3 separate regions of the Homo sapiens genome follow, and all the other regions are linked to region 2. The links come from fine-mapping of genetic effects on gene expression. A gene starts in region 2. Each other region holds a variant in brackets. All regions are shown on one strand. Distances are between the middles of the regions.

Region 1 (6,268 bases), 30 kb before region 2:
CCCTGCCCATGGCACTGGCACCTTATCTGCCGACTCCTGGTCTTGCTCCTGCTGGATGATTTTCATGTATTTCTCTAAAGGATTTTCACTGTGAGCAGATTTGTCTTTTATTTCTTGATTACTCATTTCTAATTCATTTTCCATTTCTAATTCCTTTTTTATTTTAATCTTCAGTGATTCTTCAATCATCTTCTATAAAACAGGCACCAAAACAGAAAATACACAAATACATTTGTAAAACTTTTAAGTGTTTTAAAAATGCACTAATATTAATCCCGATCCTTCAAGTACAGCCTGTATGCCAGAGGACTAATTTTTAAAATTGAAGTCATTGCTATCATCAAAGGAAGACAAATATGTCATCTCAATGAAGGAAGGTATTAATTGGCAAGTGTCCTGTGCTTTGGACTTGAATTAACCAAGAGTCCAAGGAACATTCATATGTTAGAGTAATTCAAGCAAGACTTAGCAGGTGTGTTAAGTGGACAGAGTAATCCATCTGCTAGGACTAGAATTGGGACACAGAAGGCAAGAAGAGAAATAGAGGAAGGAGGGAGGGAGTGTGTGCCCCTGGAAGCAACTGTGAACTGGCAGCCACTCCTCCCTTGGGTTCTAGTCCCAGCTAGCTGGCACTGACAGTCTCTTCTTTAAACCCTGTTTTCAAAGCAAAGTTCTGCAGCAAAGCACAGTCTACCTTTTTTACAGGCTTGTTTTAAGGATCAGATGAGAATGTACAAAAATTACCTTCAAAAACTATCCTTTACTACAAAACTCCTAAGCTTCACATTCTGTGCAGCCTTTCCCACTGCTTTTAAGACAAGGAGAGGACAGGGATGCCTTTTAAGGCATCTGCCGCACCTCTGACTTTGTACACCAATTGACTCCCCTCCCTGAGCTCAATGTACTTACGAAAGGTGTACAATGGAGCAACCAGTTCAGAGAATCAAGTCATACTTATTACCCTTTCCTGATACAGTTTTTCTAGTTCTCTTCGTTCCCTTTCTAAAACTTCTTGTAGGTTACTCTGCCTTCTTTCTTCTCTCTGCCTTCGTTCTTTCACTTGCTGTTCCCGTATTTTTTCTTCTTCCTTTTGTTCTTCAATTTGTTTCTGATCTACACCTAATAGGACAGAAAATAAAGAGTAGCTTCCAGTATCAGATTATTCAAATGAATGCAGGACCAGTCTGCAGGAGCCCTTGCCAAGACCCACGGAGACTCTGCTTGGCTTTTAGTTGACTCTGTGACCTGCTTCAAGTCACTATTTCATTTTCACCGACTTCAAGCTCCCGACCCCACTCCTTGAACTGTACCCTACTTCACTTGACTGAGACAAATACGTCACCCTCACCATAACCAACTCCAACTGTCCTCCTTCCATGTCACATGTTCTCATCCTCTTCACAGATCTCCTCCCTCCTTTCCAAGGCAAACCCTGCATTTCTGCCTCTGCCTTTGATTATAATCCCTCCCCTATCTTTAGGACCCAGACTGAGCCATTAATCCCTATTTCTGTACACAGTAGTTTTAGAAGTCTTACTCCCATAAAGATGCTCAAGTCTGTCCTACCCCAACAAAACAGAACAGAAATCACACCACTGCCCTCCCCCCGCCATTCCAGCCATCTCACTGTTCATTCCCCACTTCCTCCAAACTGACGGCAGCCCTTCCTGGGGTTTTAGCCATCACTTGTATATGGATCCTTTCCCTATCTTTTCCTCTACTCCTGGTCTCTCTCCCTAGCCTCGCGTCCACATTTCTGATAGTTCCTTGCCATCCGCATGTGGAAACCCCACAGCACTAGCTTCGTCCCAGGCATGATCATCCCGGTCCTTCGATCATGCTCTTTCTACCCTCTATCCACTCAGCCACCAGTGTTTGCAGGTTCACACTCCCTGTCCTGTGGCTGCAACAGGGGCCCTTCTCACCATCTCCCTGGACTACTGAAACAGCCCAGTCAAGGCTCTTCCTGAAGCCAGTCTCTGCCTTCCAACAACCTGTGGTCATCTGCACCAGGCATTTCCTGAGGGGAAGATGTGGATCTGCTGTGCAGCATCTCCGCTCTGATAAGAGTCCTACGCCATGGTAGTCTGGGCTCTGACAACCTGCCCTTTTCTTCCCAGATTGATTTCCTACATCACCACCAACTTTGTACGAGAAATATTTCATCTGTACCAACCCACTCACTGGGGCCTGGCCGTGGCTCTATCTTCCTTGCTTGACATTCACCTTCACTGTCTCCTCAGCCTGTAGCACTCCCTTGCTCTCACAAAGTCTGAAATGCTATTCAAGACCCAACTGAAATGCCACCTCCTCCTTATTCCTGAAGTGACAACTAACCACTCCAGCATCTCACTTGCAGGATATCTTGTACCTGATCTGTCAAAAACTACATGTACTTGTTTCTTCCACTTCTATTCCTTCCAGGCAAGGTCCATACTTTAATTACTTGTCTGTT[C/T]CCTCTGCATCTTGGCACAGGTCCCTATATCTCAAAAGTTTTAATTAGACCCCAATCCCAGAGACAATTATGCTGACCTTTCTCTTCTGGCTCTGACCCATAACCTACATTTTTTTTTTCAACCCAAGCAATGCTAATAAGTAGAAAAATTCATAGGTTCAGCAGAGGACTTTGAACCTTTTTGCTGTGCCTTGTTCTAAAGTGATCAGCAGGAACTGAGTTTTACTAATAGGAGAGAAGCAACACAGTTTCTTCTCTCTCTCCCCCATCTCTTCTGAATCCTTCTCATGAAATTAAAATACCAGAGGAGACAGCTGATCATTTCCACAGGCAGAAATGCAACTTCCTCCTTGCTAGAGAAGAAAAAATAGTTACTCCTAAACAAGATTGCTTTCTTATATGGAATAGTAATCTCAAAATAGGAATGTTGTTTAAGCACCAATTACAAAATAAAGAGGAAGAGTGAGCTGCTTCTCTACTCTGGTGTATATTTTGTAGCTGCAGGGTGGTATACAGAAATCTCTTGGACACAAGGGGAAAGGAAGGAAGCATGTCCACGGGGCACCTCCGAGACACCAAATTTCAACCTTTTTGAATTCCCTTTGTGCCCAGATGAAGAGATGAAATGACAAATATAACAATTTCTCAATAACTAAAATGTCACTCGCCATGCTGCTTAATAATTTTTAAAGCAAATATTATAATCTATGTTCCATCTCAGCAGCAGAACACCTAGTTACTCAGTTGATTTCCCTTATCCTATCACATTATTTGTATTCCCTCGCTCAGGTCTGTGCCAAATGAGTGCCTGTAGACACTCCCTCTTGTGGCCACGGCCCCTACTCAGCTGCTGCAGCCCCTCCCTGCTGCGGTCCTGGGTGATGGCCTGCTGACCATCTGCCTCCCCTGCTAGAAATCCAGGAAGGCGAGGGCTTGAGCTATATGCTCAGCGCTGAGCAAAGTGCCCAGCAGAGACAAGGCTCTAGATCATGTCTCACTGAATGCTTTCCAAAGCAGATTTACTCTGGAATCAGCAACATCAACCCTCTCAAAATCTCTTGCCTCTTTCAGTTATTTTATATGTTCCTGGGTACCATGACTAAAACCAAGAAACTGCTAACAGGGGTTTTGGGTATGATGTTTTTCCAACGTTTGGGAGGGACTAAGAGGTGGCTTTACTTGAGAAAATTCCTTTCAGATTTGAGGATTAAACACTTGGTCCAAGAAGAAAAGGACCTGGCTGTTGGCTGAGCCCTGGAACAAAGCACAAAGCTCCCACGGCTCTCTTCCCGTCTCCCTCCACCCGCAGGGAGGGAAGTGGGTAATCTGGAGGAGAAGAGGAAAAAGAGGAAGTGGGCCAGAGAAGAGAAGTCTGATGGCCAGTTTTCCTCCAGTGCTACGCTAACTCGGTGTCACAGCTTTTCCAAAGATTGAAATACGAAGTTTTTCTGTCCTAATTTCTTAAGACACAAAGGAAACAAGTAGATAGAAAAATAAATAATATTTAAATGTTACAATCATATTAAAGATATATGCTGGGAGTTAATTATTATTTCAATTTTTCACTGTGATTTCCCAAACTTTAAGGTTCCCAAGGAACAGTTTTTGCAGAAGAGTCTTGGGGAAAAGTCCAACTACTATGCCAGGCACTGAAGAGTAAATGAAAACACTTTTTAAGCAACTGGCCTGGGAAGCCTAAATGAGAAGCCTTTCCTTCCAACGTGTCCTTTCTCAGCACTGTCTTTACATGTTCACATGGGAATTACTTCAGAAATGTCATTAACAATATAATGACACCTATAACCCCCAACCCAAGATTTTGACTAATTTACACCTACAAGATGACTTCAGTGATACATGAAATAATTCACAGAGCACACGGACTGGTATTTAGTATGCGACCCTGCTGACTGTTAGTTCAAAAAAAGAACTTACTTGGGTGCTGATATGAGAGGGGCACAGCAGCTGCAGCAGCGTCCACATGAGACATATCCCCGGCAGGAGAAAGCCCGCCCATTTCCAACTGCCTTGGCATGTTCCCTGCAGCTGCATGAGGCACAATTGTCCCATGAGTCCTTAATAATAACACCAAGACAAAGAAGGGCAGTGCAGTGTGGGGGCAACTGACTGGAGCACGGGAACTGAAGCCAAAGTAACTGGGTGCGCCCTTTCCTAACAGGATTCTATGAAGTTCCCAACATAACCACTTGGCAACGTATTTGCTTGTCAGAGTGTTCTCGTAGTTGAAAGAATTAACTTTGTTTACAAAATGAGATTCGTTACCCAACAGGAAAATCAACCCAGTGACAGTGAAGAATTCAATTGGCTTGCTGATCATCATTTGAATTCTATTAAAATATCAATGATTTAACACAAAGACTTTAACAAATATTTACAAAATTTACCAAGCCCTCTCATTTAACTGTTCAAAATATTAACACTTTCAGATTTGAAGATGAAGTTTACAAGGCTAACCAATAGCTTATATGCAAATATAAAGATTTCTCAAGCTGGAAAGAACCTTAGAGATGATAGGCTCTACATGCTTATTTTACACTTACAAAGTGGCTACAAAGTAAGACAGTCTAAGGCAGGGCCATAGCCAGGACACCAGTTTCTGGACTCTTAATATTCTTTTATCTCTATTCTTTTACTAAAAATGAGGTTTTCTAAATCTGAGGCAATCAACTGAATCAGTATATTTAAAAAATAACATCCTTAGGCCGGGCGCAGTGGCTCATGCCTGTTATCCCAGCATTTTGGGAGGCCGATGCAGGCGGATCACTTGAGGTCAGGAGCTCAAGACCAGCCTGGCCAATATGGTGAAACCCCATCTCTACTAAAAATACAAAAAAACTAGCTGGGTGTGATGGCATGCACCTGTGGTTGGTCCCAGCTACTCGGGAGGCTGAGGCAGATGAATCACTTGGACCTGGGAGGAGGAGGGAGATTGCAGTGAGCCAAGATCGGACCACTGTACTCCAGCCTGGGCAACAGAGAGAGACTCCATCTCAAAAAAATAAAAATAAACATTCTTGTATTCCATCAAAGGAAAAAATAAATAAAAATCACTTATTTAAAATCTGATAAGTTAATAATTCATTTATAAGCTTAGCTCAAACTCTGAAATTATTAGTCATACTGAAATTTTTAAAAAGTAAACACACACATGAAAATCATCATGGTAGAAAAATGAGGTGATACATCTGTACTTGTGGTTGTATCACAAAATAATAATGACCCAATTTGTAACTGCTTTTCTTTTTAAACCAATGGATACGTTTCACCAAAACTAAGCTTTCTAGATTTTCAACATATAAAAACTGGTATTTATATTTGAACTTACATTCAAAAGATGATTCAAACTCCTCATTATCCTTAAAAGCTAGCTTGTCCACATCTGAAAATTCACTTTTGTCTTGAAGTTCAGTTTGTCTTCGATAAAGACTAGATTGGAAGGATAAAACTCGTGAAGTTTCAATAATGGAAAACCAAAGAGTACAAGGTGACAAAAAGCCTTTTGTGACTCAAGAAAAGGCTCTACAAAATTCCCTTTCTCTTTGTCTTGTAAATAGCTCCACCTCACCACCACCACTAGGCATTGTTCTCAGCAATTAATACCTGTTTAATCAGTTACTCCTTGTAACTATTTCATGCTGTGAAGTAGGTACTACAGTTGTTAATAAAGAATAATGTTGTACTCTGAATGCTATTCCTAGGAAATAACCATAAAACATTTCTGAAAAAAAATTCTGCACACTATCAGCATGAACCAGATGAAGATGCAACACCACAACCTTGAGTGAGCAAAGC
Region 2 (6,177 bases):
GATTGAGGTGGGCAGATCACCTGGGGTCAGGATTCGAGACCAGCCTGGCCAACATGGTGAAACCTCCTCTCTACTAAAAATAAAAAAGTTAGCCAGGTGTAGTGGTGGGCACCTGTAATCCCAGCTACTTGGGAGGCTGAGGCAGGAGAATTGCTTGAACACAGGAGGCAGAGGTTGCAGTGAGCCAAGACTGCGCCATTGCACTCCAGACTGGGTAACAGAGCAAGACTCTGTCTCAAAAACATAAATTAATAAATAAATTCCTAATGCTGACAAATAAAATTTGGTTGCTTATGAAGAAATGCAAATTATTTAAGTTTTCATTCAAATACTGTACTAAGCTTGTGTCACTAAAACTTTGGAATATGAAACTTTTGGATAATTACAGAAAACACAAAGAAAGTAAAAACATATGAACACCACCAAGAGTGAAATTTATTTTATTTTTGAGACAGTCTCGCTCTGTCACCCAGGCTGGAGTGCAGTGGCATGATCTCGGCTCACTGCAACCTTCACTGTAAACTATGGCCTCTGGGTGATAATGACATGTCAGGGTAGGCTTATAGATTGTAGCAAATGTACCACCTTGATGCAAGATGTTGACAGTGGGGGAGGCTATGAGTGTGTAGGGGCAGCAGGTATATGGGAATTCTCTGTACTTCCCACTTAACTTTGCTGTGAACCCAAAACTGCTCTGAAAAAATAAAGTCTATTAAAAAAAAAAAAACACGCACATATCCACAGGGAAAGTCTGCTGTATCTGCCTTTAAAATAATAAAGTAGTACTAATGTTCAACAGTAATGGTGAAGAAATATAGTTAAAATAATTAGAAAAGTAGTAAAAAAAAAAAACAAGTGTTTTTAATATTTGAGAACTTTACAGATTTTTTAAATTACGTATTTCTCACTTATCTAATTACAAAGAGAAACATCTGAAGAAACTAGTGCAGGAAAAAAAGAGCTCATGTTAGAGATCTAGATTTACCACCCTGCATTGTCACTTAAAAGTTACTTGATGTTGGGCAAATTGATTCACCTCTCCAGAGTCTGGTTCCTCATCCGTAACACACAAAACATCTGCAGTGTGCCTATCACAGTGCCAAGCTTACAGCAGACATTCAGCAGATTGGCAGAGTCTTATTAGACAAGATAGAGGATAGATAGATCAATTATAGGTCTGAAACATTTAGAGATTCTATACATCACTGTTTTATGTGAGACTAAATGAGACGCCAAGAAATTAATTTCAAATTTAGTACCCACTTGTTATATAACAAATATATTATGTGCAGGTACAATGTGAATTCAAAGAGGAAACAGAAATGGACCTAGTCGAGGAGCACTTAGCTATCATACAGCACTTTACTGTCAGCAGAGGAAGAACCTGTTAATAAAAACTTCAGAAACAGAAAAGGAAAGACTTTACCTTTTCTTTTGCCAAACCACTTTCTGGAAAGAAAACAGAAAGTGAATATTCATAGCCACATCTTTGTAAGTGATCTGCCACTAAAGAGTTAGAGGCGCCTATTAAGAGGGAGCTCCCTTCTACTGAAATGGACCGAGGCTGCAGTTCTCCACTCAATACAGGGTGCATCAACTCATGAATTAGCTGGTTTCGAAGTTGTGTCTAGCATAAAATAAAAACAAAAATAAAAAAGAAACACAAGGGAAAGAAATTTCAGCAGGACTGTTTCATTAGAGATATACACAGATGAGCTACATTCATTGGAAACCTTCCTTCTATTTCCATAATGGTTCTAGATCCATGGCCAGAAGTTAGAAACCTTCCCCTGCACACTTTGTCTTACCCCGTGAGACAAGCAGTCCAGTGGGTTCTAGAAAAAGCTTTCTTTCCCCAGCTTCCAAATGAAACGGGTGGTTAGCCAGATCCACTTGCAGACTCATAACTTCACTTCCCTAGAAGCCCATTTCAGCAGCTTACGATTGGGATATTAAGTATAGGAAAAAATTCTGCCACTTCATCACACCTCTGTGGACTGTTGGAGAATATAACCAAAATATTCAACAACAGGGGACTGCTATATACATTACAAAAATATCCAAAGATAAGCCTGTTGCCACTGAAAATGAAGATTTCAAAAAACTTTTAAGGAAACAGGGAAATGCTCACCATATAATTTAAATTAAAAAAGGATACATACACAGGATATAGCTACATATTTTAAACGTAAAATATGCTTTTGAAATGCATATTTCAATGAAAACACGTTGAGCTAATCCTACTCCTGGCTGTTAATCCAAATATAAAGCATACTAATAGGTATTTTCTGCCCAAACTAAACATTCATACATTTCAATATAGTTTAAAGATAAAATTTTTCATTTCCCAAACTATTATTAAGCAGTACACTAGTATTTTCTATATGGTGTCAATGTCCTTCATCCAAATGTATTACAAACCCACTTATTAATTTAGGAACCTATAAGCCATATTTATAAAACAAGCCTAATCTTACTGTGTTCATTATACAAATATTTCCTTCTCCTATCTTATTGTCAGTTCAATTAATTATTTGAATATGCTCCTTTAAGACGACTCAAACTCAACATTTTCTCAAACATTTTCAAGAGACTGTAATGTTTCAGGATACAGAGTTATTCGGGAATATAAAAATGTAATTCACCAATACAATCTATGTATCATACGATTATTAAAACCTAAACCTTGATTGAATTTGAACTACCTGTTACAGGTTACACTTGTAAAAGCTGACACAGATACGCCTAAATCCGATACCTTGAGTGTATCCAGTATACCCCGATCCTTAAACGTCTGGTATAGCTTTTTGCGCAGTTCATCTTGACTCAACACATCAGCCACGGTAAACATGTTGGACTAAAAGACAAAATGGTTATAGGTTACCTGCGGGGCAGAGGGAACGTGAACGTCTGAAAACAGACCAGTGGCCTCCGGGGAAGCCATAAGAGGCCTAGCGGCGAAAGTTTAACGAACACAAAACAAGACTTTATTTCCGCCCGAGAAGGGGCAGGTGTGTCTACCTGCGCCATCATCAGGCGTCAGCTCCCTCCGGAGCCCGCCTCGCTCGCCCCGCCGCGGCCCGAGTTTAGTGCCCAGCCCGGGCGGTGGGGCCAAGACGAGGGGGAATCCCTGCCCTCAGAACCCTGCCTCTGTCCCGAGGGTTCGGGAGGAACAAAGGTGCTGAACGTTCTCTGCCTCGCACTCCCAACTAGGTTTTCTAGCAAACACGCGAGCTTCCTTTCTTCGCGGTTCTGAGGCAAGGGCGAGGACCCAGGCACGACTCAAAGGCGGCTGGAGGGCGGGGACCCAGACACTAGGGACTGAAGGCAGCGAGGCAGGACCGCCTCACAGCCAGTCCGGCAACTTCCGGAAACCTGCTAAATATAGCCTTCCCGAGCTGAAGAGCTACGGCGCATGAGCTTGGTTGCCCAGCACCGGCCGGAAGCTCCGCCTACGTATCGCGAGAGCACATCCCAGGGTATCGCGAGAACTGCTTCGGCGTTCTGGCTACAGGTTCGGGGCGCGGGTCTCTTCCGCGGAAACTGACATTGCGTTTCCGTTGTCGGCCTCCCACTGCAGGTAGGGAATGGAGCAAGTGCGGCGGGGGGCGGGTGTTTTGAGTCCCTGGAGGACTTCGTAGCCCCTGCGTGACGCGGATGTTGGTCCTGTACCTCCACCCCTCCCCGGGGTGGCCGGGCCGGACCTGCCAGCCCTCCGCTGGCTCATCCGCGCAGCCCTTCCACCTGCAGACGTCCGCCCTCTCGGGGGCTGTGGTTTCGCGGTTCACTGGGTCATTCAGCTAACCCAGGGTTTCTTAACGGCTGCACTGTTGCCTTTTGGAGCCGGAAGATTCTTTGTTTTGGGAGGCTGTCCTGTGCATTGTAGGTTTAGCTGTATCCTTGCTCTCTATTTTGTCAGTATCACCTTCTCCCCCAAGTGTGACAACCAAAGATGTCTCCAGATATTGCCAGATGTCCTCTTGGAAGCAAGATCGCTCCGGGTTGAGATCCACAGAGCTAAACGTTTTAGAGTACCAACCATTGTGTGCTGTGAGGTAAAGGTGAGCCAGTCCTCATGATGCTTAAATGTAATTAGAAAGGAAAGGAACCAAACCTCTCAGAAGCGATAATGAAAATGTTACAGCCAGAGAATTGAACAAGAACTAAGATACATTGTAGACTGGATAAAGAGTTTAAAGGGGAGGTGGTTGAAGATGGAAGTGATCCAGATCATCTCTGTGGAAAAAGTGTGTCTTTATCGGGGCCTTGATGGGTAGGATTCGGGTGGTGAGCAAAAAGGAGAACATCACAGGAAGGGGAAAAATGAGCAAAGGAATCATTAAAAGAAAAAAAAAAGCCACGACCTTCTTGGGAGCAGTGAGGAATCTAGCCTGACTCCAGAGTTGTGTGCTGGGAATATAAGCCTTATATGGTATCTAAGTCCTGTGAGGACAGAATTGGATGTCAGCTTTGTGTACAGCATTGAAGATGAGTACGATGAGTTTTGATCTCTGGCTGTGAAAAACTTAAAGTATTTAAGAGGCAGTAAGAGTGACAGGACTTCATAGGAGGTGGAGAACCTGTAAGTTTTTGTTGGAAACAATGGAAAAGGAGGAGAGGCTTAGTTGGATTTTAAAGGATGGGTAGTGGTTGCAGACAGAATAAAGGAGAACATTCCAGGCATGAAGAGAGAAATGATAGTAGCTCTGAACTCGATATAGTCAAAGTGAATTTGGGAGAAAAAATAAGTAAACGAGTCAACGCTAGCAGAGGTGGAACAATAGGGCTGAGAAAAGACACGTGGAGCAATGTGGGAATCTTGAATACTAGTACATGATCCTGTAGCTGAGATGCATCAAAGGCTTTTGAGTGGAATGATGAAAACAGTGTTCTAAAAAGATGTTGATATGTTGTAAATGTTGTTAAGTAGAATCACTTGTCCACTGTTTAAAAAAAAAAAATGTTCCTGAAGACCCCCTTACTCCCACCTCCACCTTTGGTCCCACAGTTGAATACATGAATATAATTAGATAAAATGTTCTCCAAAAACTAGCATAACTTCTAGGGGAGGGAGAATTGCTTATAATATTAATAGAAAAATGTCACATTAAAGACCTATCAGTAGTATTCCTACTGCCCCTCCTCATTGTAATAGACATGTCCCATGCCATACCAGTTTAGTCTCATGACCCCAGGTTTATGGAACAACTGAAATCACTGCTCTCGCGAGCACAGGGCAGTTTTTCTAGAAGCTCTTCTATAGAGGTTGTAAAGAGGCATGCTACAAAAATGGATGTCTTTGGAACTGGAGTCCATGAGTTTTATCTTGCATTTGTCTACAACTTAAGAGACTTCCAAGTTCACTGAGCATCCTCCCACTCTGGCACTGTTGGTGTTCCACCCACCCCTTAGTTTCTAGTTTCCCAGTGACTTCAAATGAGCAGCCCTGGGCTTGGCCTATGGAACGGTTTGGAATAAGTCTGTGTAGTCCAGAGTCAGCAAATACTTGGCCCTCCTGTAGGTACTGCACTTCCCCAAATTCATAGCAGACATGGATAATTGATCACAGCATTCTTTCCTGGTGACCACATTTAGTCTCAGAATCTTTCTCAGCGCCAGTTCCTGGCAGTCACTACCAGTTGATTAGAATTCGCTTATGAAAGGAAACTCATTTGCCATCCCTAGCCAAGTCCCTTTTTCATTAGATAGCTTATCGTATTTAAAGATAGTACTGTGCTGTACCCCACTCCCTTTCCACCCCAAAAAGGTCTCCCCTACTCCGTTTAAACATCCTCTGTTACTTCAGTTGCTCTTGTCTGGTTTCCAGAGCATTTCCTAGCCTAGATCCTGCCCTCCCTTCCCCTGTAACACACAGAGTTATTGATCCTTTTACAATATGATTCCCAGAACTGAGTACCTTCCCCAAAGATGATAATATTATTGAAGAGGACATCAGCATTCTCCCTGACCTTGCTCTTAATGCCACCTAGAATTGATTAGCTTTTTTGACAAACCTATCAGACTTTTGCCTCTTACTGAGCTTGCAGAACTTTTGGGTTGATGTAGATGAACTGTTCTTAATCTAGGTTTCCCTTGTCCTTTTGTACAGTTGATTTTTAAGCCCAAGTACAGGGCTTGCTTTCTTATCCTCTTAACTTCTATCTTGTTAATTTCACC
Region 3 (11,192 bases), 60 kb before region 2:
AAAAATTCAGATTTCATATGGGCATGGTGGCACACATCTGTAGTCCCAGCTACTTGGGAGGCTAAGGCAGGAGGATCACTTGAGCCCAGAAGTTCAAGTTCAGCCTGGGCAACATAGCAAGACCCGATCTCTTAAAAAGAAAAATCAGATTCCCAGTCCCCACCTACCCTCTCTGCGATGGGTCCCAGAAATTTGGCCCATTTTAAGAAGCTCCCCCAGGCAATTCTAATGCACAGTAAAGTTTGACCACCACTGCTATATACATAGAAGGCCATAACCCCTCATTATAACATCTTTGGTAAAGTATCGTTTCAGTTCAGCCTGTGTATGTATATGTTCAACCTGTATATGTATTTACAGTTAAGATGCTCAAAGTCAAACCTCCACATCCTTAGCAGACAGTACTATTGAATTTGAAGTAAATTCCTCTTGAAGTAATGTTTCGCTATTGCCACTATATCTTTGTGTATAAGAGCCAATGCAAAAACATTAGATTGTAAAGCTGTAGGCAAACATCAGAGCTCAGGCTGTGTGTTAGTTATCAATTGTTGCATAACAAATTCCTCCAAAACATAGTGGCTAGAAACAAAAATGTATATTATCTCGGCTTCCTTAGGTCAGGAGTCTGGACTCAGCTTAGCTGTCTCAGAAACTCTAATGAGATTTCAGTCTCATCTGAAGGCCTAACTGGGGAAGGATCCACTTCCAAGCTCATTCATGTGGCTACTGGCAGGACTTGGTTACTTTGGGACTGAGGGCCTCAGTTCCTCACAAGCTGCTGGCCTAAAACCTCCCTTGATTTTTTTCCATGTGTGGGCTCTCCATAGCTACTTCATGGCATAGCAGATGACTTCATCAGATAGAGAGAGCAAGTGAGCAGGTAAGAGAATGTGCCAGCCAGAGAGACAATGCTAACAGGACAGAAGTCAATTTTTTGAAACCTAATCAGGGAAGTGACATCTCATCACTTTTGCCATATTCTAGTCCTAAGAAGTAAGCTACTAGGTCCAGCCCACATTCAGGGGAAGGAATTACACAAGGCCATGAATGTAGGTTTGTGGGGATCATTGGGGGTGGTGTCTTAGCTGCCTGCCACAGTCTGTATAAACATTTCACAGTGCAAATGCATCCTCCATCTCCTTAATGATCATAACCTCTTCACTTTCTCAAAGCCTCACCTCTCAGAGAATGTATCACTGGGTTAAATGAGTACCTGGCAGGTGTTTGACGGCCTTCCTGAGGTACTAGACTCTAAGCTCTCTGTGAGCAGAGGTCTTCATGCCTTGCTCCCTGCTTTGGCCTGGCTCGGGACCTAGGACCAAGAAAGCAGTCGTTCATAGTGTTGAATGATGATCACTTTATTTTTAGCACTCATGATGTGTGACTCTATATGAAATTGTCTAATTTTAGTGTCCATTGTGTACATGGCTCATTTCCTGGGCCAGGCTGGTCAAGACCTTGCACTCTGAGAGTTGCATAGGAGCTCAGCAGGTGTTTGTTAAGTAAGTTCAGATTGGCTACTCGTTGTCAGGAGTTTGAGACCAGTCTGGCCAACATGGTGAAACCCCATCTCTACTAAAAAAAAAATAATAATAATAATAATACAAAAATCAGCCGGGAGTATTGGTGGGTGCCTGTAGTCCCAGCTACTTGGGAGGCTGAGACAGGAGAATCACTTGAACCCAGGAGGCAGAGGTTGCAGTGAGCAGAGATTGTGCCACTGCACTCCAGCCTGGACAACAGAGCAAGGCTCTGTGTCAAAAAAAAAAAAAAAAAAAAAAAAAAAAAAAAAAAAAAAATTAGGTTGGCTAATCGAGGTTTCTAGAATCATCTGCATGTAAATAGGGTTAACTTTGTGGGATGATTTTCTTGAATAAGAAGTTCTCAGCCTGAGCTTCACAGTAGAACCCTGGAAGGAAGGGGAGGTCTTTTAAAATTCCGAAGCCACATCCAGACCAAGTCATTCAGAATCTTGAGGGTGGGACCCAGGCATCAGCGTTCTTGAAAGCTCCCCCACCAGGTGATCCTCTGTGCAGCCAAGGTTGAGAACCACTGTGGTAGACCAGTGTTTCCCAATCCGGGGGAGTTTCTGCCTTTCAGGAGATGCCTTTTAGGCATCTAGTGGTGTAGAGGTCAGGGATGCTGCTAAACATCCTACAGTGCACAGGACGGCCCCTCCCCAACAAAGGATGGCCCATGCCAATAGTACCAAGAGTTGAGAACCCCTGGGCTAGGTCCTACGCTTTGAGTCAGGAAATTGGTTCTAAGTGAAGCAGTAGAAGTCCATGGGGTAGCTTTGTCCCAGATGTTAAGCTTATTGCAGGCATGGATAGCTTGATAAGTCTGGAATATTATATACAATCTATGTATCGGTGTTTCCTGAAGAGAAACTCACTCTTTTAAAAGGCACGCAGTGCATAAACCAATACATTTAAACCTACATATATTTATTTATGCAACATAATACCATACACGTGTGTTTGCATATAGCACGTGCTATAAACACCCTATGCATACAGAGATGTATGCAGGGCATATGAGTGTGTTATTGTGGTTAGAGGAACAGGTATGTCTTCCTCAGCGCCCTTTATTTTCCTTCCCCCTCACTGTAGCCTCCTGCCCTCTGCTTGTCTAGTAAAAGCCCTAAGGCCTCCCTGACCCTTGCTGTCCTTACCCTCAGTCCAGAGGATGCCTCTGCTGTGCCTTGCTGCCTGGAGGGTTCCCATCACCCAGGTTAATGTGGCTCTTGGCTTTCACCACCAATCCTTAGTTTCTCAAAGGGGTTCACAACCTTTTTAAATTACTAGTGTGTCTTGTAGAAATTGAACTTCACAAACAGGTCTTCTGAAAACGCTTTCTTGTGGTGTAATTGATATGCATATGGTGCATCTCTTTAAAGTGTCTGACAAGCCTTGACATACGTGTGTGCTCATGAAAGCAGCACCATGAGCAGCATGGCAATGTGGCTGCCACTCCCAACTCTTTCCATCCTTCCTATGCTCCCACTCTCCCCAAGCAACCACTGATCTGCTCTCCTTCTCTGTGGATTAGTTTGCATTTTCTAGAATGGCCCTTGTGAAGATGTGTTCACATAAATTCTCTCACCCTTTCTCACCCGAATAGAAAATGTTGCATGATGTTGATTGCTTAATAGCTCCACAGCTTTGTCCAATTTTTATCCTTCCTGCTTTTACTGAAGATGTCCTGCCCCCATGAATAAACCTCAGAAGACCCATTCTGCCACCGCCTACCACTGAAGAGTTGAGCTTGCACCCACTCCAGTCCAGCCCACACACCAGTGCCAGATTCATCTCTTAAAAGCACATCCTGAGTCACGCCTCGCCTGCTCACAAACCTTCCCTCTCTTCCCCTTGCTGCAAAGTGAAGCACAGAGGCTTGAGGCTGGCTTGGACATCTTCCATGGACCAGGCAATGGGGGGACCTACCTTCCTGACTTCTCCCCACCATTACCCTGGTGTCCTTGATGAACTCGGCTACACCCTGAACGCTCCCCACGTCTCCCACATCACATGGGTCCTGCTGTCCTTCCTTTGTGCTTTTCATGGAATCCTTCTGTTCTTCAAGGCCTCTTCACCTCCTGCCATCCATAAACCTTTGCCTTAGCAACCCACACCAACCAAAGAGATCTGTCCCTACCTCACTCCCCCATATCCCTGTGTCAGCACTCTCTTTATTCTACTTTAGTGATACCTTATGTGTCTGTGTGTCTTACCGCCCCCCTCACCCCACCCACAAGGATCAAAGCCAGGAGGGCACACTTGCAGACCCCACCACAGTGGCTTGCACATGGCAGGTATTGGACAGACACTCATTGAATGGAATGGAATCCAGGAAAGTAGAGACACTGTCGCCCAGATGGTCAAGGAAACTGATTGCTGCTAAAGCTCAAAATTGCAGATATTAAATACTTCTCAAATGTCTGGAGTAGCCTCCAGATTGCTGTGCTCTTAAAATCTGTGTCATCTGGACTTAGAGCTGGCTTCCCCTACTCTCCATTGATCTCCATGATTCCTTGCTGTCCCACTTTACCAGGCTAAAAGCCTTTGGGAAAACCAAAGCCAGTTCCCACAAAAGGCAAAGGAAGAGACTAACAAGTATCTGGTTGTTGGATTTGTTTATTCCCAGTCATGGAAGCGTATCATTGCTTTTATTGACTTGCTTATCTTCTGCTAGTACCATATTGCAAATGTTAGAGGCTCATCTATTTTAAGACTTCCATAGTGTTTTCACAAAAATGAAAATCCCTTATTAAACAGATTTTAGGACAAGCTTCTAAAAGGACCTGCCAAAAAGTGATTTCCTTTCTATCATTAGAAATAGTTTCCACATTCTTATCGTTATGTAGTTGAACTTTTATGTCCAGGACTGCATGAAAGACGTGAGAACTGAGAAGCAACCTATATTTGATTTCGCACTTTGTTCTTGGACAGGAAGCCCCTGTCAACTGACTTCACATCTTTTTAATGCACTATATTAGTGGTTCACAGAACTTTCTGGGTGTTAGGTCCCTTTATGTGCTTAGAAACAGTTGACCCCAAAACGCCTTTGCTCTTCTGAGTTGTGCCTATAAATATTTTCTATATTAGAAGCTAGAACTGAGGGCTGGGCATGGTGGCTCATGCCTGTAATCCCAGCACTTTGGGAGGCCAACGTGGGCAGATCACCTGAGGTCGGGAGTTCAAAACCAGCCTGGTCAACATGGCGAAACCCCATCTCTACTGAAAATACAAAAATTAGCCAGGCCAGCCAGGCACAGTGGCTCACACCTGTAATCTCAGCACTTTGGGAGGCCGAGGTGGGCGGATCACCTGAGGTCAGGAGTTCGAGACCAGCCTGACCAACATGGAGAAACCCCGTCTCTACTAAAAATACAAAATTAGCCAGCATGGTGGTGCGTGCCTGTAATGCCAGCTACTTGGGAGGCTGAGGCAGGAGAATCGCTTGAACCTGGGAGGCTGAGGTTGCAGTGAGCCGAGCTGGCACCATTGCACTCCAGCCTGGGCAACAAGAGTGAAACTCCATCTCAAAATAAAATAAAATAATAAATAAATAAGCCAGGCATGGCAGCATGTGCCTTAATTCCAGCTATTTGGGAGGCTGAGGCAGGAGAATCACTTGAACCCGGGAGGCAGAGGTTGCACTGAACTGAGATCGTGCCACTGCACTCCAGCCTTTGAGTTTTTTAAGATGGAGCGAGACTCCATCTTAAAAAAAAAAAAAAAAAAAGAAAAGAAATTAGAACTGA[G/T]AAGTTTATTACTTAATAATAAACTTAGTCATTTAAAATAATAGCAAATCCATTATATGTCAACCTAAGTAATGTTTAGGAAAGATAACGATTTTCAAAAAGAAAATAATATTTTAGTGTGAGGAATAGGACTGTTTTACATTTTTGCAAATCTCTTTAATATCTGGCTTAACAGTAGACAGCTGGACTCTTACATCTGCCTCTGCATTCATTCAGAGGCATCTTGGGGTATCTTGCTTTGGTTGAAGTATATGAAGAAAACTCAAATTTCTCACAGGTATGTGCTTGGAGAATGGAGGAGTGTTTTAATGGCCTTTGCAGATAATTATGAAATTCTTCCTTGATACTACACCAAAATTCAGCAGCTAGTGGTTTCTTAAAGACTACTTGTAATGTGGAATCTGAAACCATATTGATGATATTTTTGTACTCTTTTCCACTAAAATTCATTGCTTGATCTTGCACTTTGATTGACTCTTATATTCAAGAATTATTTTCCCTTGGCTATTTGGAAAATATTGGTTCTCTGAGTTGTGCAGATCTTCCAGACGTTGACACATTTAATTAAACCATGTCAAAAAAATTTCATTGGTTAATGTCACCACCAATTTCATCAAGAAGTCTGGTAAGTATTTGGAAGCTGTCAGTCTCACTATGGCAGGTACAAGTTTTCCAAAATTGATTGGCAACAGATACTATCAGTTGTTTTCTTTGAAGTGACAAGCTGTTCATTTTTGGGAAAGTTTCTGCCAAATACTTAAGTCTAAAAAACTATATCTTGTCAGGCATTCTTTCAAGAAAGGGGGTGTTTGCCCCCAGAAAGGTACAAGTTTGGCTCATAACTCAGTTACATAAGAATGTTTCCTGCAGCCCACTGTCACACGCTGGTTTGTGGTAGAAGGGCTCTCTGCATCCTCTCACTCATTTCATTACACAAACTGTTCGAAAGGCACATACTCGGGGGTTGAGATTTAATCAAATTAATAATTTTTTATTGCATCGAGGACATTTGGAAGTGAAACTGGCTTTTTAATTTATTTTCTTGCGAGCGCGTGGTAGTGAGGAATGTGTTCCTGCTAAGTACACTATGGAGCCACTGCCCGATTCACGCTCAGGCATCAGCAGTTTTACTGTGCAAATGTCAAGCAGTGAAAAAAGTAAATAACATCTTGGTGCTATTATAAAAAGTTTTGGCTTCACAGTCCTCCTGCAAGGATCTTGAGGTCTGCCGGGGCTGCACAGACCGTCTTTGAGGGCCCACTCCTGGCTCAGAGTGAGACTGGTGGGCAGGCAGGATAGAATCTCTTGGGAGCTCAATGTCCTTTCCAGACCTGCCTGAACAGAATCTGCGTTTTAATGAAGTCCCGAGGAGATTTATACGCAGGTTAAAGTTTTCCTGTAGTCCCAGCTATTTGGGAGGCTGAGGCAGGAGGATGGCTTGAGCCCAGGAGGCAGAAGTTGCAGAGAGCTGAGATTGCACTGCTGCACTTGAACCTGGGTAACAGAGTGAGATTGTATCTGGGAAAAAAAAAAAAAAGAGAGAGAGAGAGAGAACCACTGCTCTTTAACAGAGGTCTGCAAAACTTTCCTTTAAAGGGCCACATAGTAAATACCTGTGGCAACAACTCAACCCTGCCTTTGTAGCTTGAAAGTAGCCATAGACCATATGTAAATGAATGAGCGTGGCTGTGTGCCAATACAACTTTATTTATAGACACAGAAATTTGAATTTTGTGTACCTTTCATGTGTCACAAAATAGGTTTTTTAATATATTCTAAGCGGTTAAAAAAGTAACCACTTGGAATCATGTCAAAATCATTCTGAGTTTGCAGGCCATGAGGAGAGCCAGATTTAGCTGGTGGGCCACAGTTTGCTGACCTGTGCTATATAACACTGAGTGCTCATTGAAGTTACCGGGGGAGCTTCAAAAAAACAAACCCCAACCCTCTAATTCCTGAGTCCCGTCCCCAATAAATTCTGATAAAATTGGTCTGGGGTGAAGCCAGGGCATCAGGATTTTCAGATGCTCCCCAGATTATTCCAATGTGTAGGAAAAATGGAGAACCTCTGCTCTATAATGTTTTCCAAGAAAGTTAGTTTTCTTTTAAGCATTTCTTTTTAAGATTTTAGAATTTGGCAGTGTCACCAAATGTCTGAGACCAGAATTATGTATTGTAACCTTAGAGCAGGGTTTCTCACTCTTGGCACTGTGAACCCAAAGCTATCTGAGATAGGTCTCAATCAATTTAGAAAGTTAATTTTAGCAAGCTTAAGAACCTGTGACACAGCCTCGGGAGATCCTAATAACATGTGCCTAAGGTGGACGGGGCACAGCTTACTTTTATACCTTTTAGGGAGACATGAGACATCAATCAATACCTGTGAGATGTACATTGGTTCAATCTGGAAAGGCAGGACAACTCAAAGGGGGTCAGAGGGTGGCTTGCAGGTTATAGGAAGATTTAAAAATTATGTAAAGACCTGGAATCCATAGAAAGGAATGTCTGGGTTATGATGATAAGGGGTTGTGGAGAGCAAAGTTTTATCCTGTAGGTGAAGCCTCCAGGTAGCAGGCTTCAGAGAGAATAGATTGTAAATGTCTCTTAGCAGATTTAAGGTCTGTTGATGTTAATGCTGGTTGGCTTTTCCTGAATTCCAGAAGGGAGGAGGGTATAATGAGGTATGTTTGACTCTCCCTTCCAATCATGGCCTGAACTAGTTTTTTCAGGCTAACTTTGGAATCCCCCTGGCAGAGACCAGGAATCTATTCAGATGGTTGGGGGTGGGGTGGGGGGTGCTTAGAATTTTTTTTTTTTTTTTTTTTTAAACGGAGTCTCGCTCTGTCGCCAGGCTGGAGTGCAGTGGCACAATCTCAGCTCACTGCCACCTCCAACTCCCTGGTTCAAGCGATTCTCCTGCCTCAGCCTCCCAAGTAGCTGGGATTACAGGCATGCGCCACCACACCCAGCTAATTTTTGTGTTTTTAGTAGAGACGGGGTTTCACCATGTTGGCTGGGATGGTGTCGATCTCCTGACCTCGTGATCTGCCTGCCCTGGTCTCCCAAAGTGCTGGGATTACAGGCGTGAGCCACCCCGCCCGGCCCAGAGTTTTATTTTTGGTTTATAGCACTATTGGCATTTTGGGTGTGACCATTCTTTATTTGGGGATGGGGGCTGTCCTGTGTATTCTAGGAGGTTTAGGAGCATCCCTGGCCTCTACCCACTAGATGCCAGTAGTGTCCCCCACCCTCAGTTGTAACAACCAAAACTGTCTCCAGACACCGCTAAATGTCCCTGGGTGGCAAAATTGCCTGGATTAGGAACCAGTGGTCTAAACGATGTAGATGTTTTTTGTGCTACTTCAGAGAATCTCCACATTGGAGCTATTGACATCTGGGGCTGGGTAATTCTTTGTTATAAGAGCATATTCTGTACACTGTGGGTGTTGAGCAGCATCCCTGGTCTCTACTCACTAGATGCCAGAAGCACCCTCTCCCCCAGCTTTGGCAACGAAAAATATCTCCAGATATTGCCAAATGTCCCCTGAGGGGCACAGTCACCCCCTGTTGAGAATTGCTTGGCCAGCTCAGAATCAGGGAAGCTTCTGTCCACTGACATTCACTGCTGCTTCTCTTAGGATTTTCGCCCTCTCCATTTTCCCATTGCTTGTTGCTTGAAAGTTGTAAAGCTTGGTTCCTGCATCTTTTCTTTTTAATTTTGTGGCTCATTAGGAATCAGTAATATAGCAAGGAAGGCCCCATGTAGAGAGGTAAGGGGGTGGTTTTTTTGTGTGGTGTTTGTTGGGGGGTGTTTGGGAGGGTGTGTGTGTGTGTGTATGTATGTGTGACATTCATTCCCTGGGGAAGAATCTGAGCCCTTGTTCCTGCCAGCCCTACGTCTGAGCCAGCATTAAATCTGCAGCCAAGATCACAGACAACTTGGGCAAATCACTTGGCCATTATGAACTCACAGCCATGGCAACGGCCATCCACAAGCCTGAGGACAAAAGGTGTTTTATTCTGTTGTTCTGCACAAAAGGTTCTAGGGATACTGGAGACAAAATAGCCTTTGAGACTTAAAGGCATTGATGTGTATTTTTTTTTTCCCTACTACATGGCTTATATTTAAACTGTCTTAGGCTAATGTACACTGTAATTTTTGTGTGAATCAAAACCTAAAATTCTTTTTATCCAGAGGCCAGCTAAATGAAGGCATAAGACAGCCCAACAGAGGCTTTTAGGGTTTGGTGAGAGGTATTGAGAATTACTAGTAAAATGTGCTAGAAAGCCTGGCATTCTAGCCTGGCCAACATGGCAAGACCCCGTCTGTACTAAAAATACAAAAAATTAGCTGGATGTGGTGGCATGTGCCTGTAATGCCAGCTACTAGGGAGGCTGAGGCATAAGACTCACTTGAACCCAGGAGGTTGAGGCTGCAGTGAGCGGAGATCACACCACTCACTCCAGCCTGGGCAATAGAGTGAGACTCTTTCTCAGGAAAGAAAGAAAAAAAAAAAACCTGGCATTGATTATTATTTTTTTACATGAATACATCACAGTCATCAAAAAAATGCTTTCCTTATTTTTTCTCGTTCACGTTACCCAATGTTGTCATTGCTGGTTTGAAGCTTGGGAAAATTCAGTCTGTGGATTTATAGGAGCATCCAAGAAAAGCACTGATCTTCCTTAGCTATCGTAAACTTTTAACAGCATGGTGTTCTGCTGGTACTTGGCACCACCCCTATATTTAAAAACATCAGCTTGCCTATGACTACTAAGGACAGCCTGAATCCCAGATCTACTTCCTTTTTGTGCACAGGCACTCCCAGCACTTTAGGGGGTGGTTGGAGTGTGTGTGTTTAGAAATCTGCTTTCTCAGGTGACTCAATTCCCGTCTTCTCAGACCCTGTCTATGGCATGACACTAAAGCATGAAAAATTCCAAGGTTAACAGTACTTGTTTGGCTCACAAAAATGCACTCTAGCTGCACTCTTTTCAAGATGGCTGGACAACTTGGAACATTTTGTTTTTCTTAACTGTAGTCCTTGGAACTTGCCATTTGATTCACAAGTGACTGGAGGGTTATGGCCAAACCCAGTGGGCCACGTCTTAGAGAAAAAACATCACACACCATCGAATATGAAAGCAGGCACTTCAAACAGACTCAGGATGCCACACCTGAGACCGGGAAGATGCCACTGTTGACTAGAAATGGGCTTCTCAAATTTTCATGTGCACACAAATCACCCCAGAGGCCTTGTTAAAATGCAGATTCTGACTCAGTCTGGGGTCACTTCCAACATTCTTTATTTCTCACAAGTTCCTCCCTGCTGAAGCTGACACTGCTGGTCCAATGAACACACTTTGCAAAGCACATGGAATTGACAAATGACAAATGGTCCACTCATATCTTTTCTTGACCTCTGATAGTTTTCCTTGTTGCCCAGTAGAAGCTGCCAGCATCCAAGTTCAGCTCTTCTCAGCTACAGATCCATATATCCCTTCACATCATCCAGAGTGATCTTTCACAACCCCAATCTGTTTCCCATGCTTAAAAATGCTCCCTGGCAGACCAGGCATGGTGGCTCACACCTGTAATTGCAGCACTTTGGGAGGCCGAGGCGGGAGGATCACTTGAGCCCAAGAGTTTGAGAACAGCCTGGGTAACATAAGGAGACCCTGTCACTACAAAAAAATTAAAAAATAAAAAATGAGCTGGGTGCAGTGGCATGGGCCTGTGGTCCCAGCTACTTGGGAGGCTGAGGTGGGAGGATCGCTTGAGCCAGAGAGTTCAACACCGCAGTGAGCAGTGATTGTGCCACTGCACTCCAACCTAGGCAACAGAGCAAGACCCTGTTTCAAAAAACAAAACAAAACAAAAAAAAAACGCAGTGGCTTCCCATGATTTTGTTTTTTTTGTCTTTTT

Direction of the effects. Alleles are on the strand shown, and positions count from the first base shown. SD is a standard deviation of normalised expression in the study named. Not every link is listed here.
As copies of C replace T in region 1, the expression in breast of the gene that starts at base 3,357 in region 2 goes down (small effect, 0.14 SD a copy in GTEx).

The links. PIP is the estimated chance that this variant, and not a neighbour inherited with it, causes the effect. A credible set is the group of variants that fine-mapping cannot tell apart.
Region 1: its variant is the best candidate, but not a certain one, in a credible set for the expression of OFD1 in breast (GTEx, PIP 0.65).
Region 3: its variant is the best candidate, but not a certain one, in a credible set for the expression of OFD1 in monocytes (TOPMed, PIP 0.53).

The regions. Positions count from the first base shown.
Region 1 is chrX:13,761,978-13,768,245 of GRCh38, reverse strand. It overlaps OFD1 (OFD1 centriole and centriolar satellite protein), which reads right to left. Exons shown (of 23, transcript NM_003611.3): 18 at 5,802-5,902; 19 at 4,391-4,501; 20 at 962-1,119; 21 at 22-192. Among named protein-coding and RNA genes, the nearest start is that of OFD1, 30 kb to the right of the region's middle. The variant C/T (reference allele first, on the strand shown) is at 2,456.
Region 2 is chrX:13,731,928-13,738,104 of GRCh38, reverse strand. OFD1 (OFD1 centriole and centriolar satellite protein) reads right to left here and starts at 3,357. Exons shown (of 23, transcript NM_003611.3): 1 at 3,022-3,357; 2 at 2,759-2,857; 3 at 1,427-1,627. The coding sequence starts at 3,033. It overlaps TRAPPC2 (trafficking protein particle complex subunit 2), which reads left to right and starts at 3,485. Exons shown (of 6, transcript NM_001011658.4): 1 at 3,485-3,580; 2 at 3,920-4,061. RefSeq lists enhancers at 2,444-3,015, 2,784-3,983.
Region 3 is chrX:13,789,798-13,800,989 of GRCh38, reverse strand. The region is part of intron 2 of GPM6B (glycoprotein M6B); the gene reads left to right. Among named protein-coding and RNA genes, the nearest start is that of GPM6B, 22 kb to the left of the region's middle. The variant G/T (reference allele first, on the strand shown) is at 5,267.